3 separate regions of the Homo sapiens genome follow, and regions 1 and 3 are each linked to region 2. The links come from fine-mapping of genetic effects on gene expression. A gene starts in region 2. Each other region holds a variant in brackets. All regions are shown on one strand. Distances are between the middles of the regions.

Region 1 (8,000 bases), 180 kb after region 2:
GCTTATTAAAATGTCATTACCCAGAGGAGTAATCATAAACTAGCCAGAGGGTATTTTTTATAGATGGTGAGAGACAAACATTTTTTTTCTCCCTGAATTAAGTAGTTATGTACTCTTATCAACTAGAATATATTTAAACTTACTTTTATTTATTTTTCCAGTCTCAATCTCTCCCTCTCTGTTTTATGTTTCTAGCAACTTTATGTAACTAATCTTAAAATCATTAGCATTCCTTCTCCAAAAAGAGTATCATATCATCTTAATAAAGTTTCTCTTTTCCCAGAATTGCTTAAGTAGCATGCTGCTATTCATTTCTCTTGAAAGTTTAGTCAAAATGAATTATTTTGCAAAAAGGAAAATTCCACAGTTTCTATTTCTTTTCCTCATTGTCTGTGGCCCATTAACGTCTTTTATCTGCTACTATGATAATGTCAAATGATTACTTTGGTCATCTGCAACTTAACACTAATCTTATCTGTTTAATTGAAAGGATGTTTTGACTTTCTCTTTGAAATAATATCAACATCATTTTGCACTTAATTCTGAAATTCATTGACCTCAATGTGCAAGCTGTCTTCTTTACTATTTATTGTGAATAACCATTTTTTTTTATTTGTTGTAATCACACATCAAGAAAGGGCTAGGGAGATGTCTTTGTGAAACATTTATCCCTATGGTTCTGTTTAATAGGAGTACTTACCAGTAGCTAAATGCCTCATTTTATTTTAAATAATCTGTAATATTAAGTCAGTTTATCACACTATGAGTAGTTTTTTTTAATGGATTCTGACAATATGCTGCTTATTGTAGTCTTTCATCCTTTATCTGAGAACTATGTTTTTATGACAGTAAAATATTTTTTATACAAATAGGATAAAAATTCATATGCTGTCATGCGCTAATATGAAGTTTATCCTTACATCTCCCACTCTCCACCCCATGCCCCATCTAGTGGCCAGAATGCTGTAATCGTGGGAAGGAATAAAGCTCTGACACTATGCAGTCCCTACCCCCATCATTGCCTCTTTCTTTGCATTAAAAAAAAAAAAAAGAAAATACACTGAAATAATAAATGCTAAATTTTGGCTCAGATTATTTTAATTAGAAATGGAAGTTTAATGATAAACACTTTGTATTCTTCAAATCCAAAAGGAGAAATATCCTGTTTACTTCCTTTGGTGCTCTTATTGACTGTAGAACATTACAGTATCTCATTTGTCATATGCAGAGTTCATTCTTTTTGAATATATTTCACATAGGATGTAGATTTCTGTAACATTTTTTATTACTTTGAAAAAAGTAGCCATAGTGTACATTTTAAAATACTACCACATTCTTGGTCAGCTCATACCTTTCAAATATAATATAAAGATGATATTAATATATAAATAAGAATGGAAAAGAATTTCTTTGCCCTGCATATTTCTCAGTTTGTTATATAATGCTAGGAAATAACTCTCTGATACATAACACACTTGGCAAATTTTACTGTTTTATGCTTTAAAAGAAAAAGTCAAATTTAGATAGTGAATTTTTTGAAATGCATCTTACAAGCTCTGATTTGCAAATTACCAAATTGATCTTATCTTCTGGAGTAAATGATGACCCAAATTAGTCTACATTTTGAGTGTTTTTGTTCTTTGACTAAAATCGTCATCGTTAAGATAATTAATGGCAGAAGGCAGTGAATTACATGCTTTCCTCATTTTAATTCTGGTCCTACAAAAATGTTTCCTTTTTGACTTACTGTCATCATGAAATATTCTCTCTTAAATCAATATATTGTGGATTATAACTTGTGTTTGTAAGATTTATTTACCTCTTTTAGTTGTGATAGGAGAATTTACCACCTTATTTTGATCCTGTTAGTTTAAACTCATTAGCAAGGAGGATAACAGTGTTAATAGTCAGCATTTTGTAAATCTTCCAGAAGATTTTGATAAATCATTTCACTAGAAGCCTATTGCTCAATTTATTGCCACTTTAAAGTTGCCAAAAATAATGAGCTCATCTTCCTATTTTAATGTAAGGTATTGTCAATGTTTGAAATGTGTCAAGAATTGTTTTTGATAGTTCTAGTGAACAACTAATGTTTCTAAATCATACTACTTATTTCATTAGTTAATTATTGCTTGTGAACCATATTATAATCATCTTTAGTATCAATAAATATTTTTGAGATGATATAATGCCAGTAAATCCATAAATTAAAAAATTAAAGCATTAAAGAAATATCTACTATGTAAGCATTCAATTTTATATAATGATTATCTGGGTCAGTGTACCCAAAATTGTGTGCTAGCCAAACTACAATTAAATCATCATGATAATTCCAAGGCTTAAAACAATTGACTATGTCTGTTAAAAATGAGTAGCTTAAAATTCATTAAATTACTTTGTTATGTTTTTTACCTATTATACTGTGAACATTTCACATGTTCTTTTTTATAAAGGCCTTGGAAGCCAAATTTTAATTGCTCTATGGTATCATTTTGTATACCGTAATCTATTGAGTAATTTCCCTTTTGTTGGATAAACAATTAGTAGCACATTATAGTTACTGGATTTTTAGATCTTAGTTTACTGGTTCAAAGGGTATGAATTTTTAATAATATATGTATTATATATATTTTATATGTGTGTAAATATATATATACAATGTGTATAAATATATATTTGTTATATAGTAGCAATATATATGCTTAGTTTACTCCCTGTTTTCCAAATATTCAACATTATTAATTTGCAAATATAATAGGCAATAGTAGTATCTTGTCATTGTTTATATTGAATTTCTTTTACTTCCAATAAAGTTAAATGTCTTTCCATAGATCTATTTATTTTGTAAGTTGTTCTCACTCTTCCCTCAGTTTTTTACTAGGGTTGGGATTCTTTCAAATTTGTAAGAACCCTTGATATCTTGAAGATATTATTCTTTACCTAAGTTTACTACAGATATTTTACCAATGTGACATTTGTGCAAATACTCTAAAGTTTTATATAGCCAGATCAATTTGTCCTCTTTTGTAATAAAAAAAAAAAGTCTTTAAAAAAAGATTTACGGACAGGATTGACAGATTGATAGCTCTTTCTCGATTCCGTGGGTGGTGGTGCATGGCCGTTCTTAGTTGGTGGAGCGATTTGTCTGGTTAATTCCGATAACGAACGAGACTCTGGCATGCTAACTAGTTACGCGACCCCCGAGCGGGTCTGCGCCTGCCACCTGTGCGGGGGCCGGCAGGACCCCGACAAGCAGCTCATGTGCGATGAGTGCGACATGGCCTTCCACATCTACTGCCTGGACCCGCCCCTCAGCAGTGTTCCCAGCGAGGACGAGTGGTACTGCCCTGAGTGCCGGAATGATGCCAGCGAGGTGGTACTGGCGGGAGAGCGGCTGAGAGAGAGCAAGAAGAAGGCGAAGATGGCCTCGGCCACATCGTCCTCACAGCGGGACTGGGACAAGGGCATGGCCTGTGTGGGCCGCACCAAGGAATGTACCATCATCCCGTCCAACCACTACGGACCCATCCCGGGGATCCCCGTGGGCACCATGTGGCGGTTCCGAGTCCAGGTCAGCGAGTCGGGTGTCCATCGGCCCCACGTGGCTGGCATCCATGGCCGGAGCAACGACGGAGCGTACTCCCTAGTCCTGGCGGGGGGCTACGAGGATGACGTGGACCATGGGAATTTTTTCACATACACGGGTAGTGGTGGTCGAGAGCTTTCCGGCAACAAGAGGACCGCGGAACAGTCTTGTGATCAGAAACTCACCAACACCAACAGGGCGCTGGCTCTCAACTGCTTTGCTCCCATCAATGACCAAGAAGGGGCCGAGGCCAAGGACTGGCGGTCGGGGAAGCCGGTCAGGGTGGTGCGCAATGTCAAGGGTGGCAAGAATAGCAAGTACGCCCCCGCTGAGGGCAACCGCTACGATGGCATCTACAAGGTTGTGAAATACTGGCCCGAGAAGGGGAAGTCCGGGTTTCTCGTGTGGCGCTACCTTCTGCGGAGGGACGATGATGAGCCCGGCCCTTGGACGAAGGAGGGGAAGGACCGGATCAAGAAGCTGGGGCTGACCATGCAGTATCCAGAAGGCTACCTGGAAGCCCTGGCCAACCGAGAGCGAGAGAAGGAGAACAGCAAGAGGGAGGAGGAGGAGCAGCAGGAGGGGGGCTTCGCGTCCCCCAGGACGGGCAAGGGCAAGTGGAAGCGGAAGTCGGCAGGAGGTGGCCCGAGCAGGGCCGGGTCCCCGCGCCGGACATCCAAGAAAACCAAGGTGGAGCCCTACAGTCTCACGGCCCAGCAGAGCAGCCTCATCAGAGAGGACAAGAGCAACGCCAAGCTGTGGAATGAGGTCCTGGCGTCACTCAAGGACCGGCCGGCGAGCGGCAGCCCGTTCCAGTTGTTCCTGAGTAAAGTGGAGGAGACGTTCCAGTGTATCTGCTGTCA[G/C]GAGCTGGTGTTCCGGCCCATCACGACCGTGTGCCAGCACAACGTGTGCAAGGACTGCCTGGACAGATCCTTTCGGGCACAGGTGTTCAGCTGCCCTGCCTGCCGCTACGACCTGGGCCGCAGCTATGCCATGCAGGTGAACCAGCCTCTGCAGACCGTCCTCAACCAGCTCTTCCCCGGCTACGGCAATGGCCGGTGATCTCCAAGCACTTCTCGACAGGCGTTTTGCTGAAAACGTGTCGGAGGGCTCGTTCATCGGCACTGATTTTGTTCTTAGTGGGCTTAACTTAAACAGGTAGTGTTTCCTCCGTTCCCTAAAAAGGTTTGTCTTCCTTTTTTTTTTTTTATTTTTATTTTTCAAATCTATACATTTTCAGGAATTTATGTATTCTGGCTAAAAGTTGGACTTCTCAGTATTGTGTTTAGTTCTTTGAAAACATAAAAGCCTGCAATTTCTCGACAAAACAACACAAGATTTTTTAAAGATGGAATCAGAAACTACGTGGTGTGGAGGCTGTTGATGTTTCTGGTGTCAAGTTCTCAGAAGTTGCTGCCACCAACTCTTTAAGAAGGCGACAGGATCAGTCCTTCTCTCGGGTTCTGGCCCCCAAGGTCAGAGCAAGCATCTTCCTGACAGCATTTTGTCATCTAAAGTCCAGTGACATGGTTCCCCGTGGTGGCCCGTGGCAGCCCGTGGCATGGCGTGGCTCAGCTGTCTGTTGAAGTTGTTGCAAGGAAAAGAGGAAACATCTCGGGCCTAGTTCAAACCTTTGCCTCAAAGCCATCCCCCACCAGACTGCTTAGCGTCTGAGATCCGCGTGAAAAGTCCTCTGCCCACGAGAGCAGGGAGTTGGGGCCACGCAGAAATGGCCTCAAGGGGACTCCGCTCCACGTGGGGCCAGGCGTGTGGCTGACGCTGTCCGACGAAGGCGGCCACGGACGGACGCCAGCACATGAAGTCACGTGCAAGTGCCTTTGATTCGTTCCTTCTTTCTAAAGACGACAGTCTTTGTTGTTAGCACTGAATTATTGAAAATGTCAACCAGATTCTAGAAACTGCGGTCATCCAGTTCTTCCTGACACCGGATGGGTGCTTGGGAACCGTTTGAGCCTTATAGATCATTTACATTCAATTTTTTTAACTCAGCAAGTGAGAACTTACAAGAGGGTTTTTTTTTTAATTTTTTTTTCTCTTAATGAACACATTTTCTAAATGAATTTTTTTGTAGTTACTGTATATGTACCAAGAAAGATATAACGTTAGGGTTTGGTTGTTTTTGTTTTTGTATTTTTTTTTTGAAAGGGTTTGTTAATTTTTCTAATTTTACCAAAGTTTGCAGCCTATACCTCAATAAAACAGGGATATTTTAAATCACATACCTGCAGACAAACTGGAGCAATGTTATTTTTAAAGGGTTTTTTTTCACCTCCTTATTCTTAGATTATTAATGTATTAGGGAAGAATGAGACAATTTTGTGTAGGCTTTTTCTAAAGTCCAGTACTTTGTCCAGATTTTAGATTCTCAGAATAAATGTTTTTCACAGATAAAAAAAAAAAAATAAAAAAAATAAAAAAAGATTTAGATTTATTTAATTTTTTTTTTATTTCCCAAGATAGGTTGAGTATTTACCTGGATTTTATTCTATTTTATATTTACAGTTTTGTCTTTTTAAAAATTTGTCTTTTAAATCTATAATTAATATTACCATTTATTATAAGGTTAGGCTTTAATTATTTTTTACCCTCAAAAGTCTATTTTTCTTTTTCTTTCTTTTTTTTTTCTTTTTTTGTGAGACAGGGTGTCACTCTGTCATTCAGGCTGGAGTGCAGCAGCGCGATCTCAGCTCACTGCAATCTTGGCCTTTCAGGTTCAAGCGATTCTCCTGCCTCAACCTCCCAAGTAGCTGGGATTATAGGCGTGCCCCACCACGCCCACCTAATTTTTGTATTTTTAGTAGAGAAGGGGTTTCACCATGTTGGCCAGGCTGGTCATGAACTCCTTTTTTTCATTAGTTGAATAATTCATCAAATACAAAATATTTTTGATGTTTTCTTGCTTATATTTTGTTAGCACACATACGTATATTTATTCCAAATTATTTCATTCATTTGCATTTTTAATGCTAAACCATTATCCCCAAATTTGGTTAAGTTTTATAATATATCTTAATAACCAGAAAGGTATTTTCATCACTTGTAACATTTTCTAATGGATTCCTTTCTTTTGAGATGGAGTCTCACTTTGTCTCCCAGGCTGGAGTGCAGTGGCGTGCGATCTTGGGTCACTGCAACCTCTGCCTCCCAGGTTCAAGCAATTCCCCCGCCTCAACCTCCCAAGTAGCTGGGGCTACAGGTGCACACTACCACGCCTGGCTAATTTTTGTACTTTTAGTAGAGACAGGGTTGACCCGTCTGGTCTCGAACTCCTCACCACAGGAAATCCGCCCGCCTTGGCTTCCCTAAATACTAGGATTACAGGCATAAGCCACTGCGCCCCGGCCTCTAATGGATTCTTTTTTATTGTATATACTTGAGGTGTACAACATAATATTTTGATGTATATTTACAATGTAAAGTAATTACTAAGGTCAAGTAAATTAACATCGATCGTCTCTCATAGTTTTAACTTTGTGTTTGGTGAAATCACCGAAAATCTACCCTCTTAGCAAACTTCAGCACACTGTATAACATCATGAGGTATAGTTCTCATATTCTGCGTTGTATCGCTACACTTATTCATCTGACATAACTGATTATATATGTTTATACTCTCCAATGAAATTTATATTCTTTCAAAATTAAAAATACTGTTAGCTTTTGATTGAAATCTAGTTAAACCTGAAATCTAGTTAAATTTGTTTGAGTAGAATTGAGCACTCAATAGTTTATAGAATTAAGTCTTCTTTACCAGTAGCACTGTATGTCTTCAGTAAACTTTTACCATTTTCTGTATATGGTTATCAAACATTTCTTGATAATATTCAAAGGCATATTATTTTTGTTGCTATTGTGAACAGTTGTTTGTTGTTAAGTCTACTTAGGAGTCATTGCTGCTATACAGAAAAGCTAATAACGTACATAAATTCATTTATAGTCCATCTTATTGGTGTGCTAGCTTATTAGCTGTAAATACTTCTTCAGCTGGTACTGATGACTAATAAGATTACTGACAGATGAATGGAGTTTCATTTCTCTGAGTCAATATCTTTTATTTCCTTAATATTCTTAATGTTAAATGTTATTTTCAATAAGTAAATATTCTTCTTTGTAAGCAAGGTAGCTCAGGGCTATTACCACCATAGGAATAACGTGATGATATTTTATAGGTTATTATTAAAAATCTACGTTTTGTGACTATGTGGGCATATTTCATATTAAATATTTAATAATTTTACTCTTTAGAACTCTCAAGATTTTTATAGTTTTGAAGGAGGATTAAAAATTATTGAACTGATTTGGCCTTCTGGTTCTTATCATTTGCGGCAGTAGATTTAACTGCAGTAGTCATTTACCCAGAATATTTTCTTAAAAAGCTAAAGGCTTAATAATA
Region 2 (8,513 bases):
AGATCAAGGAAGTTTCTACGCTGTATATAAATTTTGCCCTGGAATCCTTCTGTCACATATATAAAAAGTAGCAGTTTGGGTGCTATTATAACACTTACAGGTAAGTAAAACTAACTTTAAAATGTAGAGGTGTTGAAATATAACAAAGAAATAGGCTATACTTATATTTTCCTTTCTATCAACAACCTTCATAGTTTTTCTCAATAATACACTCTAGCTTAAAAATGCAAATCATCCTTAATTTCTAACATTTTAGACTGGCCTGTACATCAGTAGCTGCTGTAAACCTGAACTATTTGCTCATGAAGTCAATAAGAGCTCAGCCTTTGACTGTTTATCAGCAATTTATTGGGCAGGCACTGCATTTTAAGTGGCAGCATTAAAAAAAAAAAAGGCAGATGATACATCTAAAAATGCAAGGTTTCTGCATTTTTTCCCTGACTATATGTGAAATAATAAGTATTAATAAGGTCCATGTTGGCAAAATGTTTACTTTTTTAAATCTTAAGTTAATCCCCTATTGTTGTTAATTGGCACAGTTGGAGACTATGTCATAAATCGTGATGTGAGCTATGACATCTTAGTCACTCATATTTAGGTATCTCCTAATTTCTCAGCTTACATATTACTGAAATGCAGCTTTACATTGCTTTATCCCTAAGCCTACCAGAAAACTGCTAAGGATTGTAGACATTTCATCAGGTAATCAATACAAAGTTTTCAAAACTTTGACAATTACCTATTTCTCTAATAGATGAGTAATTTAAGTATTGATATAGGCCCGCACTGCTAACAATGTTTTGGTCAATGACAAACCACATATACCACAGTGGTCCCATATGATTATAATATGGTACTTTGTGCCCTTTCTATGTTTAGATACACAAAGATTTACCATTGTGTTACAGTTGCCTAGAGTATTTAATACAGTAACATGCTGTACACGTTTGTAGCCTAGGGGCAATAGGCTATACCATATAACCGAGGTGTGTAGTAGGTCACACATCTGGTTTGTGTCAGTATACTCTGTGATGTTCACATGATGAAATCACCTGATGACGCATTACCCAATCTCAGGTATTCTTTCATAGCAACAGTAAACAGACTAAGACAAGCTTCCACCATGTGCCAGGCACTATTCTGGTAATTGGAGATACACAGCAAACAAGACAGCTATTCAGAGTCCTTGTTCACATGGCACTAACACCCTAGTGAACAGAGATAAATGATAAGTGAGAAAACAAATAAACGAACAAGACCATTTTGTATAGTGATAAGTGCTATAAATACAATGAAACAGGGTAGTATGATAGTGAAAGAAAAAGTGTGTATGTGTACATGGGGTGTCCAAAAATTTTTGATAAGATTCTTGGAAAAAAAGCCTTTCTAAAATAAAGTAACATTTGAGGTTAGACTTGATGGAGCACAAGGGGCCAGCTATGTGAAAATCTCTGGATACCAAGGCCCTGAACAGGGTTTCCCATTTCACATGTATGAAGAACACAAAGGTGGCCTGAGGTATTAGAGATGCATTCTCCATTCCTTTAGACACTAGCCAAGTGAATGTATTAAAATTTAAATTAAAATAAAATACAAAAGTTCAGCTCCTCAGTGACACCAACCATGGTTCAAGTATTCAATGGCCACATGTGGTTAGTGGCAACCATGTTGGACAGCAGAGGGTCTATTTGTCATTGAAGAAAGTTCTAATAAATAGTACTTCACCAGTGAAGTAGGAGCATTGGAATAGGAGGAGAGGTCAGAGAGAATTACTTGGAAAGATCATGAAGGTCCTTGTAGGACTGTCATGAGGACTGTGATGAGGACTGCATTCTGCAAGTACGATGGGTAGCCTTTGGGTAGTTTTAAATAGGGGAGGGACATAATTCAATTTATATTTTTAAAGTGTTACTCTGCTATATAGAAAATGAATTATAAGTAGGGCAAGATCAGTTAGTTACTGCACTTGTCCTGGCCAAGGAAGATGATGGGTCTTTGGCAGGTTATTATAAGAGGGACAGTGAAAAGTAAATGGATTTAGAATATATTTTAGAGACAGGATCAAGTGGATTTCCTAATCGACTAAAAGTAAAACAAGATAAACAAAGGAAAGAATCAAGACCCGTTCCCTCTTCTGGGGCCTGAGCAACTAGGTAGATGGTTATGTTCTTTACTGGGATGTAACAAGATTGAGAAAATATAGTTTGGGTGGGTAGGGGATAGGTAGGAAGGGAATTGTAAGTTAAGAATTTTGTTTTGGATACCTTATGTTTTAGGTACCTATTAGATATAAATATATAATAATCAGATAGGTAGCAGAGAATGATTGAACCCATACTACGGAACGTAAACTTACTGAATTTTACAATAGAATCCCCTGACGCTTAACTATATTTAATAAAGCTCAAATGTGAAGGGTTAGATCCTTTTCCCAAAAAACTGTAAAAACATGTTTGCTAGATTTGACTAAGTGGAAGATTTATCAAGTAAAACTTAAATTTTTATTTCTGTTGTCCATGCTCTACTATTTTTCTGCACGTACAACATTTTCCTTATTCTTTGGCTGTGTTGTCACTTTCTTGAACTAGGACTCACCACTATCTGTAGAAAAGAGGCAGTGTTTATATGTGATTGCTCCCTATCCAGTTTATGTATTGCAGCTTATTTCATTTAATATACTCTGTTAAAGGTACATTATTAGTCGCTTCTTTCAGTTAGTATAGCCCTGCAGGTTTCTGCATCTCTCTAACATTAGCATTTTGTTGTCTTTGTTCACTTGCCTCTGGGTTCTGGATGGTATGGGGAGAAAAATCTACCTTCTTTCCTTTTGATGGGACAAATAACTTTTTGATTATGATTTGTTAAAGAAACCTGGATGCCAGGACATTGCCTCCTTATTTTATTGAAGAGTTCCAGGATGTTATTAACACATGGATTTAGAATATTCTTGTTTTGCTGCCATTAGCAAATGCCATTTTTTCCTGTTACAACTTTTAAAAAACATCTGCTTCCCATACCTTAAGTGTTCAGTTTTTATGATAATATTATATTAAATTTTCTAAAGAACTGAGATAATTGTGGGGGTAGGGGACAGATAAAATTGAAATATTCTAAAATTTCCCTTACTATGCTTTTCTTTTTAACCTTGATATATGCCAGATTTTTGGTTTATTATTTTAATATGTTATTTTTGATGCCAACAGATATGAATGATTTTCCAATCAAGGTTTTTCACTCCGATGTGTCCCAGGTAGGATCTGGCATATGAATCATATGTCTAAAAAGGAAACTCATGAAAGTATGTGTGCGTGCTAGGGGGCTCATTTGTCTTTGGCAAAGACATTGCTGCTCCTGTTTCCTTAATTATTAAACAGATGGTGCCCACTGCCATTGACTAGCTGCCCAACTCATACTCCTGTGTGGTAGCACAATTCTGGACATCTGACAGAGAGAAGCTATACCTTTATAGTATATCTGCCTTCTACTAGAACAGGCTGCTTCCCATGAAGCTGTTTAAAACTTAAGTCATCTTCTCCCCCTGTCCCCATAAATTAATTTTATCTCAAGGATCTCCTTTTGGCTTTTTTTATTGCTTCATGTCTACATACAAAATACAGTGGCATATTGAATCAATTATCTAAATGCTCTAGGCTGTAAATACACTTTAACCTGGAATGTCAAGATAATTAAGACAAAATTGGATTATTAAGATTATTATTAGTGAGGGCAAATGACATCTAAGATAGCCATGTTAAAAGTGGAGTATCATATTAAAAAGACAACTAGATCCCAGGGAACATCAATAGAGTTTAAGTCCATTGAACAGATACTGAATTCTTTTTCATAATCTGCCAAAAAAAGGTTAGCTTGAAAATTTTCTTTTAGTTTCTCAAATATCACACTGCTGCAGTACACGAACCTTTACTCATTAATAACTAAGGTCCTGATTTTTTTCATATGCTTTGCTCGAAGATGTAGTATTTTGCAGCCATAGACAGTCTTCTAAGATCTCTCCTAGTGTTAACCCACCTATCCTCACCTCTCCCTTGAGATTTTTCTTTATTTTTTGATGAACTATCTGGGCTTTTAAACTTTGTTAACCTTTTTTGAGGATACGGTCACTTAATCTCAATGTAATTTTACTTTCCACAGTCAAAAACTATTGTGTAATACTCATGCACTGGATTTAAATGACTGCTGCCTCTCCTTCCTTTCTTTTTATACTATTGTGGTCTAGGTAAGGCTGATTCTTCCATCATTTGAACCAACAGGCCAGGCTTGGGTTCTCATAAAGCAGACCTTCCAGCAGGAGCGACCAAAGGATGACACTGTCACCTGAAATTGGACTGCTGTTGTACCTGACTTGGGAACATCTTTGAATCAGACAGTAGAAGTGGCTGTCATTTTCAGGGACAGTAGAAAGTATGTTGGCTCTCATCTGCCAAGTAGGCAAACACAATCTTTTTTTTTTTTTTTTCCTTCCAACGTTCTAGGGAGCTCAGCCTCAGGGCTAGCCGCAGCCCCCCACACCCCGGGGCTGCGGTGGGCTGCGCGGTGGATCAGCCTCAGCAGCCCCTGCTCCAGCCTGTAGGGTGAACCGGCCGCTTTCCCAGCAAAGGAGCAATCGAGCTGAGGGTAGCGCCTCCTCCGCAGGAGGGGGCGGGAGCTCGGCTGAGAAAGCTTTCCTAGGGAGTTGCCTTAAAGAAAGAAAGCGGAATTGTCGATCACTCCAGTTGCCAGTTTTATACAATTTTAAGCAGTCGTCGCCACTCGTTTCCCCTTTGCAAAACTGCAAATCACCACCAACCTTGCATCAAATAGAAGTGGGGAGGGAAAAAAAAAGCAAATCTCCTTCTCCCTTCTCACCCTCCCTTTCTTCTCACCCTCCCTTCCTCTCTTACTCGCTCCTTCTCCCTCCCTCCCTTCTGCGGCTGCCGCTAGTCTCTCGGTCTGGCTCTCTCTCCGACGGGACTTAGCAACTTCTTATTTCTCAGCCCCTTGTCCATTTTTTTTTTTCCATCCTTTGCCATGAATTGGATTGACAGAGGCGGGGGAGGCTTTGCTTTCTGCCCCAGGGAATGGCGATTCGCGTCCTGGGGCCGTGCCGGGGAGAATCGGCCGAGGAGAAAGAAAGAGTGATAGAAAAAGAGCTGCAGGAAGGAGGAGAAGGGAGACCTCCATCTGCCGCGGGCCCGGCGCGCTGCAGCGCAGCGCAGCGCCGAGCTGCGCCTCGGAATGGCCCGGAGCCCGCCCTGCGCCCCCGGCTCCTCCAGCGTCAGCGGCTCCTGCGCGCGGGATGCATTGGGCAATTTTTGAAATCCTGAAGTAGGAAGAGACCCCGGAGGATATAAGTCGGGGGTGGGGGTGGAGCAGAGAATCTGTGAAAGATATTCAAAGAGAGAAAAGGGGAATCCTGATCGTTTCTGCCCGTGCTTGTTTTCAACTTGAGCGTGCTAGCCTTTAACTTGAAGAAGTCTCATTGGAGCATCTAGCATTCTCCAGGAGTTATTCGAAAGCTGAAACTTTCAGTGGATTGTGGGCCTGGGGAGAAGAAGGATTCCGAGGGTGGAATTGGGAAGAGCGTGCGTGCGTGTGTGTGTGTGTGTGTGTGCGCGCGCGCGCGTGGGTCGGGGCGGGGGCGTCGGGGGGCCACTGGGAATTCAGTGAAGAGGGCACCCTATACCATGGCAGTGCCCGGCGACGCTGCACGAGTCAGGGACAAGCCCGTCCACAGTGGGGTGAGTCAAGCCCCCACGGCGGGCCGGGACTGCCACCATCGTGCGGACCCCGCATCGCCGCGGGACTCGGGCTGCCGTGGCTGCTGGGGAGACCTGGTGCTGCAGCCGCTCCGGAGCTCTCGGAAACTTTCCTCCGCGCTGTGCGCGGGCTCCCTGTCCTTTCTGCTGGCGCTGCTGGTGAGGCTGGTCCGCGGGGAGGTCGGCTGTGACCTGGAGCAGTGTAAGGAGGCGGCGGCGGCGGAGGAGGAGGAAGCAGCCCCGGGAGCAGAAGGGGGCGTCTTCCCGGGGCCTCGGGGAGGTGCTCCCGGGGGCGGTGCGCGGCTCAGCCCCTGGCTGCAGCCCTCGGCGCTGCTCTTCAGTCTCCTGTGTGCCTTCTTCTGGATGGGCTTGTACCTCCTGCGCGCCGGGGTGCGCCTGCCTCTGGCTGTCGCGCTGCTGGCCGCCTGCTGCGGGGGGGAAGCGCTCGTCCAGATTGGGCTGGGCGTCGGGGAGGATCACTTACTCTCACTCCCCGCCGCGGGGGTGGTGCTCAGCTGCTTGGCCGCCGCGACATGGCTGGTGCTGAGGCTGAGGCTGGGCGTCCTCATGATCGCCTTGACTAGCGCGGTCAGGACCGTGTCCCTCATTTCCTTAGAGAGGTTCAAGGTCGCCTGGAGACCTTACCTGGCGTACCTGGCCGGCGTGCTGGGGATCCTCTTGGCCAGGTACGTGGAACAAATCTTGCCGCAGTCCGCGGAGGCGGCTCCAAGGGAGCATTTGGGGTCCCAGCTGATTGCTGGGACCAAGGAAGATATCCCGGTGTTTAAGAGGAGGAGGCGGTCCAGCTCCGTCGTGTCCGCCGAGATGTCCGGCTGCAGCAGCAAGTCCCATCGGAGGACCTCCCTGCCCTGTATACCGAGGGAACAGGTAAGCACTGGCAACTCCTCTCTCGGCTCTTGGAAACTTGAAACACTTGGCAACCGGCGCAGAGTGGAGAGAATCCGAGCGCTGGGAACTAAAGGGAAGATAGCCTAGAAAACTGGTCTAACTTCAGAATTAAGAAACTAGCAGGTTTTTTTTTTGTTTTTTTTGTTTTTTTTTTTTTGTTTTTTTGCCCTCTCTTTCACACAGTAGTTTTATAACCTGAACGACTGAAACACAATTAACAAAACTAGATGGCATGTGTAGGGTCTTCCACAGCTGGGCCAACTTTTTAGATCTGCTACACCTGGTGTATGGCTTGCCTACTCTTTTCAGTACTCTTACGCTTTCCTTCCTTAGCAGAAATTTTAGAATTAAGTTTAGATTTTAGCAATGAGTGATTTTTTTAACACATAGATTTTACTAGATTTCTACTTTTTAAAAAGTAAAATCTTTTTAATGAAATGATATTAAACATTTATGAAAACCAGTAAAAAGATTCTAGAGCAAAGCAAGCTGTGCTTGAAGGTGAGGAATTGATACACATTTTCTGGTTTTGCAGTAAGTTTTATTTGGAGAGACTGCAGCTGATGGTGCCCAATTTGTTTTTAAATATAATTTAGGGGCATACATTATTACATGCTAGTGTGTTTTGTATCACAAACTTCAACTTGGGGAATAATATGTCTGAACTTTGGAATTGTTCAAAATTGTCAACTGCGTTTTAGTGTCAACTAAAAACAAAACAGTTCTCTTTAGTATGTGCATACTTAAGTGGATATTTATAAATTCAAATGGATTTATGCAGATTTTACAGGAAATACTAATTCGGGAGGCCATTTCTAAGATTGCTGGAGATGTATATCTTCCCACAACGTGGGAGGAGGAGGAACCTGGGATTATAAAGTTGTAAATAAAACTTTAGTCACTTTTGGGGATGAGTCTCCTTATTATCATTAAGTGATTTAAAACTATAGAACAGTTGCTATAAAGGGCATAAAGGAACAAATCCCAATTTTAAATGCATACGGTGTCTAAAAAAGCATACCGAAGGGTATGCCTCCCTAGTTGAAGCAGATTTGTTCACCTCTCTATTTGAAGTGGATTTGACACTTGATGGGGAGGAGGAGCTGGTTGGATACAGCAAGTGGAAATTTACATTTTTCCCTTTAAATTAATGCCTACCTGTGGTACTATTAGGACAACTTTAGGGAGCAAGAGAATATCCTAAGATAAAGTAAGCTTTTTCTTTTTAGGTTATTCTGTGGATAATCATTTGGGTATTTCTAAGAAATAGCAGTCACCATATGGTGTGGGTGGCTAGTTGGTTTCTGAAATGGAGTTGATTACACAGATCTATGGCTGTTTGACATTATTGAGCAGAGTAGATGACAGCATCATAGTCTGTTTATTTTAAAGCAAATGTAGTTATTTGCTTTTTGTTTCGATAAAACAAATGTTTCTTGTCTTTAAGCTTACTCTAAGAGTGGAGGGGAAAACAGGCCACTGACTGATAGTTTTGGTAAAAATTTGGAAATTGTTAAAATGGAGTAAGTTATCTATTTGAGGGTAAACTAACCATTTTAATTTCTTTTCACAGTTATGGGAGAGAATGTCTTAAATGAAAACACCACCGCTTTAAGTATGTTCAGAATACACTATTCATTAACTTATAGGGAAATAGGATGTTACTATTGCAAAATTCACAACCATAATTTCTAAGGAAAATCTGGGATTTAATCACAACTTGATTCCAAATTGATATCATTTACCCTGTGGAATTATTTTTTAAAATTTTATATTAACATTTATAAGTTAAGAAATTAAGGGTGGATAGAAGATAAGAAGGTGGTTAGGTAAATTAACCAGCAGCAT
Region 3 (8,585 bases), 47 kb before region 2:
AGTTTTTTTGTATTTTTAGTAGAGACGGGGTTTCACCTTGTTAGCCAGGATGGTGTCAATCTCCTGACCTCGTGATCTGCCCGCCTCGGCCTCCCAAAGTGCTGGGATTACAGGCGTGAGCCACCGCGCCCGACCTAGTCACTGAAAATTCTTTACTTAATATGTAATATTTCTGGCCTTTGTTAATTCTCTTCCTCTAAACCAGCACTACTGTGGGGTGTCTTTTCTTTCCAAGATTATTCTATCAGAAGTTTACGTGATATATATAGAGAGAGATGGATAGATAGATATGAATATATATGTATTGTTTTTTCAAATTTTCCATTCTGTTGGAAACAGTTTTCCTAGACAAATAACAATTGGGGGGCCCAAGCGAACTCCACTGTTGTCCTCAATGCACGTGGTCATAGTCTTATCCTCTCATGTATTCAGCATTAATGATGAAACCATGCCATGAGAAAGATTATTGAGCTGGGAGGCTGTGAACCTGATGTAAATTTCAAGCTTTTGTCACCTTACAAGCTACTGGATTAAGGGTAAACTATTGCCTTTCATTGGCTTGCTTTCCTCGTGTGCAAAATGTTATCTTTAAATACTCTAATGTCAAAAAAATAGAATGATTAAGCCCTACTATTTGAGAGCACAACAGGTTGATTATAGTCAATAATATCTTAATTGTACTTTTCAAAATAACTAAAAGGGTATAATTAGATTGTTTGTAATACAAATGATAAATGCTTGAGGGAATGGATACCCCATTCTCCATGATGTGATTATTACGCATTGCATGCCTGTAGCAAAACATCTCATGTACGCCATAAATATATACGCCTACTATGTACCCACAAAAATTAAAAATGAATAATGTCACTTGTACTCTAAGAAACAAACTTACTGTGCTAATGAACTTCAGAATTTGTGTAGATATAAGAATCTGGCCATGTATTTTATGGGCAGATTATGGATTTCAATTGTTATTTTAAATATGTTTTATGTAAATACTATTACCATTAGAGGGCAGAGATTTATTTTAAATTCAAGTCACTCTGTATACAACAGAAAGCTAAGCATTTTTAGATTACTTAGATATTTCAGGGTCAAAACCACCTGATATCTTTTGCTGTAGTCAATCAGTCACTATAGTTTAGGCAGCAGTTGGATATTCAAAAGCCTGTGATGAGAGTTTTTTGTACTGCCTGCTGTGGTCTGACTGTGTTCTCCAAAATTCATGTGTTGGGAACTTAATCCCCAATGCAACAGTGTTAGGAAGTAGATCCTTTTGAGAGATGACGTCATGAGGGTCTGCTCTCATGAATGGATTAATGGCCTTATAAAAGGGCTTGACAGAGAAAGTTTGTCCCGTCTTTGCCCTTTCATCTCTTCTACCATGTGAAGCCACGGCGTTCCTCCCATCCTAAAGACACAGCATCAAGGCACCATCTTAGAAGAAGAGAGCAGCCCATATCAGACAGCTGAATCTGTGGTGCCTTGATTGGACTTTCCAACCTCCAGAACTGTAAGAAGTAAATTTCTGTTCTTTATAAATTATCCAGTCTCAGGTATTTTTGTTATAGCAGCACAAAACAGACTAAGACACAGCCAGAGTTCTGAAAGGAAGGTAGTGAGTGAGCCTGAGAGGGAGACTATTTGCTGGCTATGTTTCTGAAGCTTTTCATAGAAATCCATAAAAACTAGCTTGCACAGACGTACTGTGACATTTCCGTGGAGAAATATGAGCAATTTGAGTGAAAGTCTGTGGGATAAGCTGGAGGAAGCATATTAGCATGCAATACTTAATGTGAGTTCTGCTTTCCCTTCGGTCACATAAATGAGCAATTTGCAAGCAGATTATTACCTAGCCCAGTTAAGAATTTTCCATCCTTTTTTAAAAACAAAAACAAAAAACAAAAAACTCCTTTTAAAAATTGATGTCTAGCTGGGAACTTACAAGAGATTAGCACATATGGCATAGTGACGTAAGCAAGAAGTTTTAACATTGTTATTTAATTTAATAACCATATTTAATAACTTGTAGTTTTTGAAAGTTTATCCAGAGCTTAAATTTGGTCATATTTTATTTTTTCTTTTATATTTTCCTTTTTTCTTTCTTACTCTCTCTTTTTGAGTGTGTGAGAGAAAAAACAATAGGACATTTCCTTTATCTAAAACTTCATAGAAACTCTTGTAGAATTTGTCCTCACTAAAGACAACAAGTATGCCATCCTAAAAAATAAATACCAGCAAGCAAATTCAATAAGATAGGAAATTAAGGCTGAGAAACAAAAACTGACTGGAACTCTTTAAGTCCTCTCTGATTTATCATCTTAAATAGTTGGTACAGCACTCTCAAAATTTCTGGATCAAATGAGAGTTGTTAGTGACTTCACAATGTAAAATCAACCCAAATTATGGAACAAACTTTTTATAATCAAATTATATTTTACTCCAGCCTTAAATCAATATAACACTTGCTTTCTAAATCAAGTTTTGTGTATTCGGGCTGTATTGGATTTTTATAAAACTTTACAGCAACTCATTAAGTAAGCTAAATAGATCAAGAAGTTTTGTATGTGTTATAATGTTAACTTTTTTGTGTTTTGACTAGAAAACTAGGCATGTTTCTTTAAGATGACTAAATTTTCTATTATTACGTAGATATATGTATATATTATATATGCATTATGTAGTTGCACTATTTGAAGGTCCAATAGGAATTTTTTTTCTCTGAATTTTTTTCCTCCTACACCCTGAACTCCTCCGGCATGTCTCCATTATATTTTCTTTGTGAATCACAGTACGATCTTGTTTAACTCTTAAGTGGACCCCTCGAGGAACTAGATCTCAGTCTGTCCAAACTGACCTCTCTATCTTTCCCATCAAGTTGGCTTCAAGAGCTCTTATTTGCTCTCTTATTATTGTTATCGGTGTAAAACCATATCAGAAGCCTCCAGTTATCCTTGATTACTCCCTACCCCTCAACCCCAGATTCAAACATCACTGAATCCTGTCAACTGAAACAGAGAAATGTCTTTGAAGTCTGAACTGCTTGCTCTCAATTTCCACTGCCACGGCTTTAATCCAGGCAACTCAGATAGAGGCGGCTTTGAGGAGCAGTGCCACAGTCTATTATTATAGCTATGTGTGAAGCTGACCCCTCTAAGCTTTCGTTTCCTCAAATATCAAGTGGAGGGTGAATTTACCTCAGAGTGTTGCTGTGAGATTAAATGGGATAAGGCATATAGCACATTTAGCAGATTCCTGCCATGTAGCAAGTTGAAGGTGAAGGACAAAAAAGAAGGTAAAGTTGTATTCCGGATAGAGAGGATAAAGAGTAAAATGCCTCAGGAACTTGAAGCAGCACAGCCCATTCAGGGATAAGAAACACTTGTTAAATATTAATAATTCTTCATAGTCATTGCTATTAGAACTGAGGACTGAGGACTTAATTATATAATGTTCATGGCTAAATAAGATTTACTCGATTATTTTTTTTTCCTTTGAGATGGAGTTTCCGTCTTGTTGCCCAGGCTGGAGTGCAATGGCACGATCTTGGCTCACTGCAACCTCTGCCTCCCAGGTTGAAGCAATTCTCCTGCCTCAGCATCCCGAGTAGCTGGGATTACAGGCATGTGCCACCACACCCGGCTAATTTTGTATTTTCAGTAGAGATGGGGTTTCTCCATGTTGGTCAGGCTGGTCTCGAACTCCCAACCTCAGGTGATCCGCCTGCTTCGGCCTCCCAAAGTGCTGGGATTACAGGCATGAGCGACTGCACCCGTCCTACTTGATTTTTTTAAATGCAAATAGAAGAGTCAATCCAGCAAAAGAACAACTAAATGCCACCATAGACACAGATACATACATACATTTGCACACCAATAGCATCCCAAGGGAAAATATCCTCAGTAAGCGGTCACCTGATCTGGCATTTTCAACCCTTAATAGAAAATTATGGGAAATGATTACCACAGCTACTTTGGCAACACTTTTAAGTTGTTTATTTACAATATTCAAAATTACAATTTTACAATATCCCTGTAACTCTCAACCTAAAATTGGAAATAATAATAAGCTTCAAACTGGGAATCGTTCTTGTTTTAGCCTTTCAACCAGATTTCACTCATTGGCAGTGATTCTTTCTTCTGACCCATTTCAAAAGCTGACTCTTTTATCTTGAATTGATTCCAGGTAATTGTATCTGCATCTGACCCTAGGGAAGGAACAGTCGTTTGGAACCAGTGCTATAGGGCAATAATCAGGAACTGTCTGAGACGGGCAGTGTCCAGTAGCTACCACATGACAAGAGATATCAGAATTAGAAAGGTCCCTCTGATATTCCTTGCTCTTGCTAAGAGAGACATC[C/A]GGTGTCAGTGATTCCATCTCCTCGTCAGGTCAGTTTTCCTGTGATCAAGAATAAGAAAGAAAGAAAAAAGACCTTTTATTCACTTGCTAACTGAAGCTGTATCTGTTTTTAACTAGCATTAAAATGTTCCATTCTTTGTCTAACTTACATGAATTACTCTTAGGCTTTCCTTTCACTCTTTTAAATAACAGTTTTTTTCTAGCCATAGTGGATATGCCTGTTTTCAAAATATAACTGCAAAGAGCTATTGCTGCTTCAGTGATTGTGGATTACAAGCTATTTAGGTTGTCACAGCAAATCCATTAGGGTAGAAATCTATAAGGTCTATTAAATGTGTAAACCGTGTTTAATAGTCTTTCACTTTGGTAGATGTTTATTTATAGTTATTTAGTTATTTATTATTTTCTAATTTTCCTTTTTATACCAGGGCCTTTTTGGTAGATGTTTATTTATAGTTATTTAGTTATTTATTATTTTCTAATTTCCCTTTTTATCCCAGGGCTTTTTTTTTTTTTTATTTTTAAAGAGACAGACGTCTCGCTCTTTTGACCAGGCTGACCTCCAACTCCTGGCTCAAGTGATCGTCTGGCCTCAACCTCCCTAATATCTGGGACTAGAAATGCACACCACTTTGCTAGCTTACCCAGGACCTATTTGAAATTTATTTATAGTTATTTAGTTATTCATTTTCTAATTTCCCTTTTTATACCAGGGCCTTTATTTTTTTTTTTTTTTTTTTTTTTTTTTCAGAGACAGAGGTCTTGTTCTTTTGACCAGGCTGGTCTCCACCTCCTGGGCTCAAGTGATCCTCTGGCCTCAGCCTCCCTAATATCTGGGACTATAAATGCACACCACTTGCCAGCTTACCAGGGCCTATTTGAAATTGATACCATTTGTAAAATTTCTTCTGGGTCTCTGAAATATAGTTTGTATAGCATCTTTTATAAATATGTAGTTATAATATTTTTGGATGGTATCTTGCTATGGTTAATAAACATCAGCATATTTTAGTAAAAAAAAAATCAGGTTAGTTAGAACCCTGAATGATGCAGAGGGTAATATTTAAGAGTAGGTTTCAAGTAATAAAACTTGAGGAAGTTCTATAGTTCTATTCAAGAGGCTGAGGTGGGAGGATTGCTTGAGTCCAAGAGCTGTAGGCTTCAGTGAGCTATGATCATGCCTCTGCGCTCCAGCTAGTCTCTTTTTTTTTTTTTTTTTTTTTATTGTTTTGAGACGGAGTCTCGCTCTGTCGCCCAGGCTGGAGTGCAATGGCGCGATCTCGGCTCACTGCAAGCTCCGCCTCCCGGGTTCACACCATTCTCCTGCCTCAGCCTCCCGAGTAGCGGGACTACAGGTGCCCGCCACCACGCCCGGCTAATTTTTTGTATTTTTAGTAGAGACGGGGTTTCACTGTGTTAGCCAGGATGGTCTCGATCTGCTGACATTGTGATTCACCCTCCTCAGCCTCCCAAAGTGCTGGGATTACAGGCGTGAGCCACCGCGTCCGGCCCCAGCTAGTCTCTCAAAATAAAATAAAATAAAATAACTTCAGGAAATGTGAGGAATTTGGGTTTGTTAAGTCTAAGATGAGGTGACAGTGAGTGTTCCATAATGTTCTAGAACTTCAGTCTTTGACATGCAGTAGTGAAAAAATATAGTGGTATATAATAATACTATATTATTCTCAGGGATTGTGTCAGATCAATTGCTAACAATGGGAAGACCAGAGATCACAGTGGGGCTACCACTCCGAGACACTGGTAAACACCAGGAATACAGGGAGGTTGACTACTTTTGACACCATATAGATAAAAACAAGCTCAAATTCTTTTTTCTTTACTCAAGATACAAAATTAAAATGACAACACTTAACTGTTTTATTATGAAATGTTTATAAGAGGAGACTTGGCATATATGTACAATTTAAGAAAGAACAATAAAACAAATTGGCATATGCTTTCTACCTGGCTTAAAAAGTAGAAAATGAGCTGCAACTTAAGTATACTACCATTCATTCCTGTCTTCACTTTTTGGGAGTCAGTATTTTAAAACTTGTGTTCATCATTCCGTTAATTCTTTTTTGTGGTTTTATCACATATGTGCATCCTAAAAAATACACTATTTGGTTTTATCTCCTTTTTACTTTTATATGCTGATAATAAATTATGCTTTTATGTATACTTCGGTGACATTTTCCTGAATATTATTTTTGAGTTTAATCCATGTTGATACTCCAGTTCATTCTCAAACCAATATTATGTACAACTATATGAATTTAAGATGATTTCTTTATCTAGTCTCCCATCTATGATTTCCAGTTTTTGTCTACTTCAAATCATGCCTCTATTGACATTTTTGTGTGTGTCTCCAGATATGCATGTAGAGATAGTTCTCTGTGATATGTTCCTGGAAATAGAATTGGTGAGTTGTAGTGTACTCATAACCTTAACTTTATTGTAGCAGTGCCTAATTGTTTTCCAGACAAGTTGTAGCAATTTACATTCTCACAAGTACTCTAGATGTTCTTGTTCTATTATATGCTTTCCAATATTTGTTATTAATCATCGAAACTTTTCTCCATATCATGGATATGAAATGAGAACTTTATTTTGTTTTTATCTGTATTTCTTAACTATTAATAATATTAAGCATCTCTTCCTATGGATATTGCCTACTCCTATTTCTTCTTTTGTGAAATGCCTCTCATATTTTCCCTTTTTAATAATGAATTGTTTGCTCTTACATATTGCTTTATCGGAATTCTTTGCATATTCTGGAGATAAGATTTTAAGATTTTCTTAGTCATGTATTTTTAAAATATTGTTTCCTGAACTAATGTGCAGTTTATCTTTACTTTTTTATGTTGTCTTTCAATTGGAAGTTCTTCATTTTACTGTATTTGAATATATGAATCCTTTTCTTTATTGCTTGAGTGTTACATGCATTATTTAAGAAATTTTTCCCACTCTGTGTTCTCCTGTGCTGCCATTAAACTTTTTAAATTTTTCACAAGTAAGTTTTAAGGTATAGAGAAATAATTTGTTTGTCTGTGTGTGTGTATGAGAGAGGGAGAAAGAAAGAGAGAGAAGCAAGGTTCAGCAAGGTTCAAGTTTTATTTATCTTTTATAGACAGAAAATTGCCCTAGACTATTTGTGAATAGTTTATTCTTTCCTAACTGACCAAGAATTCTATTTCTGTCATATATGTCAAATAGCCATACACACATACATCTGGTTCTGGGCCGGCCTTCTACTTGGTTCCACTGGTTTATTTTTATATACCAGTATTACATTTTCTTTATTAAATTTTTTTTCATAATGAGAAAATAAGACACTTTCTTCTTCCTCCTCCTTCATCTTCTTCCTTATGAATATTTTAGCTATTCTAGATTCTTCGTTCTTGTGCATATGTTTTGGAAATAGCTTGTCAAATTCCAAGAAAAACTCTTTTGGAAATTTGATCAGAATTCTATTGAATATACTAACCAATTTGGGGATAATGACATTTTTTTTTAGTCTTTCTATTCATAAACATGGTATATGTTTCAATTTATAAAGATCTTAATTTCTTGTTTTTTAAAATTTCTATTTCTATTTATTTCTGACTACCGTGTATTTTTGGTTCCTATTGTAAAGAATACACTTGTTTAAATTAAATTTTGTAATTATTATTTATGGATATACAGAAATTCAGTTGGCTTTAGTATATTATCCTTAGATCTGGCAATCTTATTCTACTCTTAATTATTCTAATAATCTGTAGAAAATTGAGGTTGTTTATAGAGCTAATTATCTAATCTTCAAATAATAATAATTTTTTTCATTCCCAATTCTTAGGCTTTATTTTTGTTGTTTTGTTATATTAGATAAGGTCTCCCATATAGTAAAGTAGAAATGATTATAGGGCACATTGATGACTTATTCCTGATTTTAAAGAGAAAGCTTAACAATTAGTAAAGTTGGTTTGCTATCTACTTAGGACTTTTGCATTTATGCTCAGGAGTGAAGGTGGTCTTTAATAGTCTATTATTCCTGACTTCATTTTCATGCCAACATTACACTACCCTCGTCAATTAACTTGGGGATGTCTCTTTTTCTCTTCTTTGTAAGGCATTGTTTCAAAATATATTATTTTTGCGTGTTTGATAGAACTCACCTGTAAAATAATCTGAGCCCATTATTTCATTTGTAGGAAGAATTTTTATTGTTATTTGTACATTAA

Evidence for each region. PIP is the estimated chance that this variant, and not a neighbour inherited with it, causes the effect.
Region 1: its variant is fine-mapped to the expression of PDE3A in testis (GTEx, PIP above 0.99).
Region 3: its variant is fine-mapped to the expression of PDE3A in skeletal muscle (GTEx, PIP above 0.99).

What each region holds. Positions count from the first base shown.
Region 1 is chr12:20,548,364-20,556,363 of GRCh38, forward strand. The region is part of intron 1 of PDE3A (phosphodiesterase 3A); the gene reads left to right. It also overlaps the pseudogene LOC728688. Among named protein-coding and RNA genes, the nearest start is that of SLCO1C1, 140 kb to the right of the region's middle. RefSeq lists a silencer at 2,972-3,266. The variant G/C (reference allele first, on the strand shown) is at 4,450.
Region 2 is chr12:20,363,601-20,372,113 of GRCh38, forward strand. PDE3A (phosphodiesterase 3A) reads left to right here and starts at 4,937. Exons shown (of 16, transcript NM_000921.5): 1 at 4,937-6,644. The coding sequence starts at 5,685. It overlaps PDE3A-AS1 (PDE3A antisense RNA 1), which reads right to left and starts at 6,656. Exons shown (of 2, transcript NR_186033.1): 1 at 6,241-6,656. RefSeq lists a silencer at 5,975-6,269.
Region 3 is chr12:20,316,462-20,325,046 of GRCh38, forward strand. It overlaps LOC105369688 (a long non-coding RNA gene), which reads right to left. Exons shown (of 3, transcript XR_931419.3): 3 at 4,355-4,401. Among named protein-coding and RNA genes, the nearest start is that of PDE3A, 48 kb to the right of the region's middle. The variant C/A (reference allele first, on the strand shown) is at 4,363.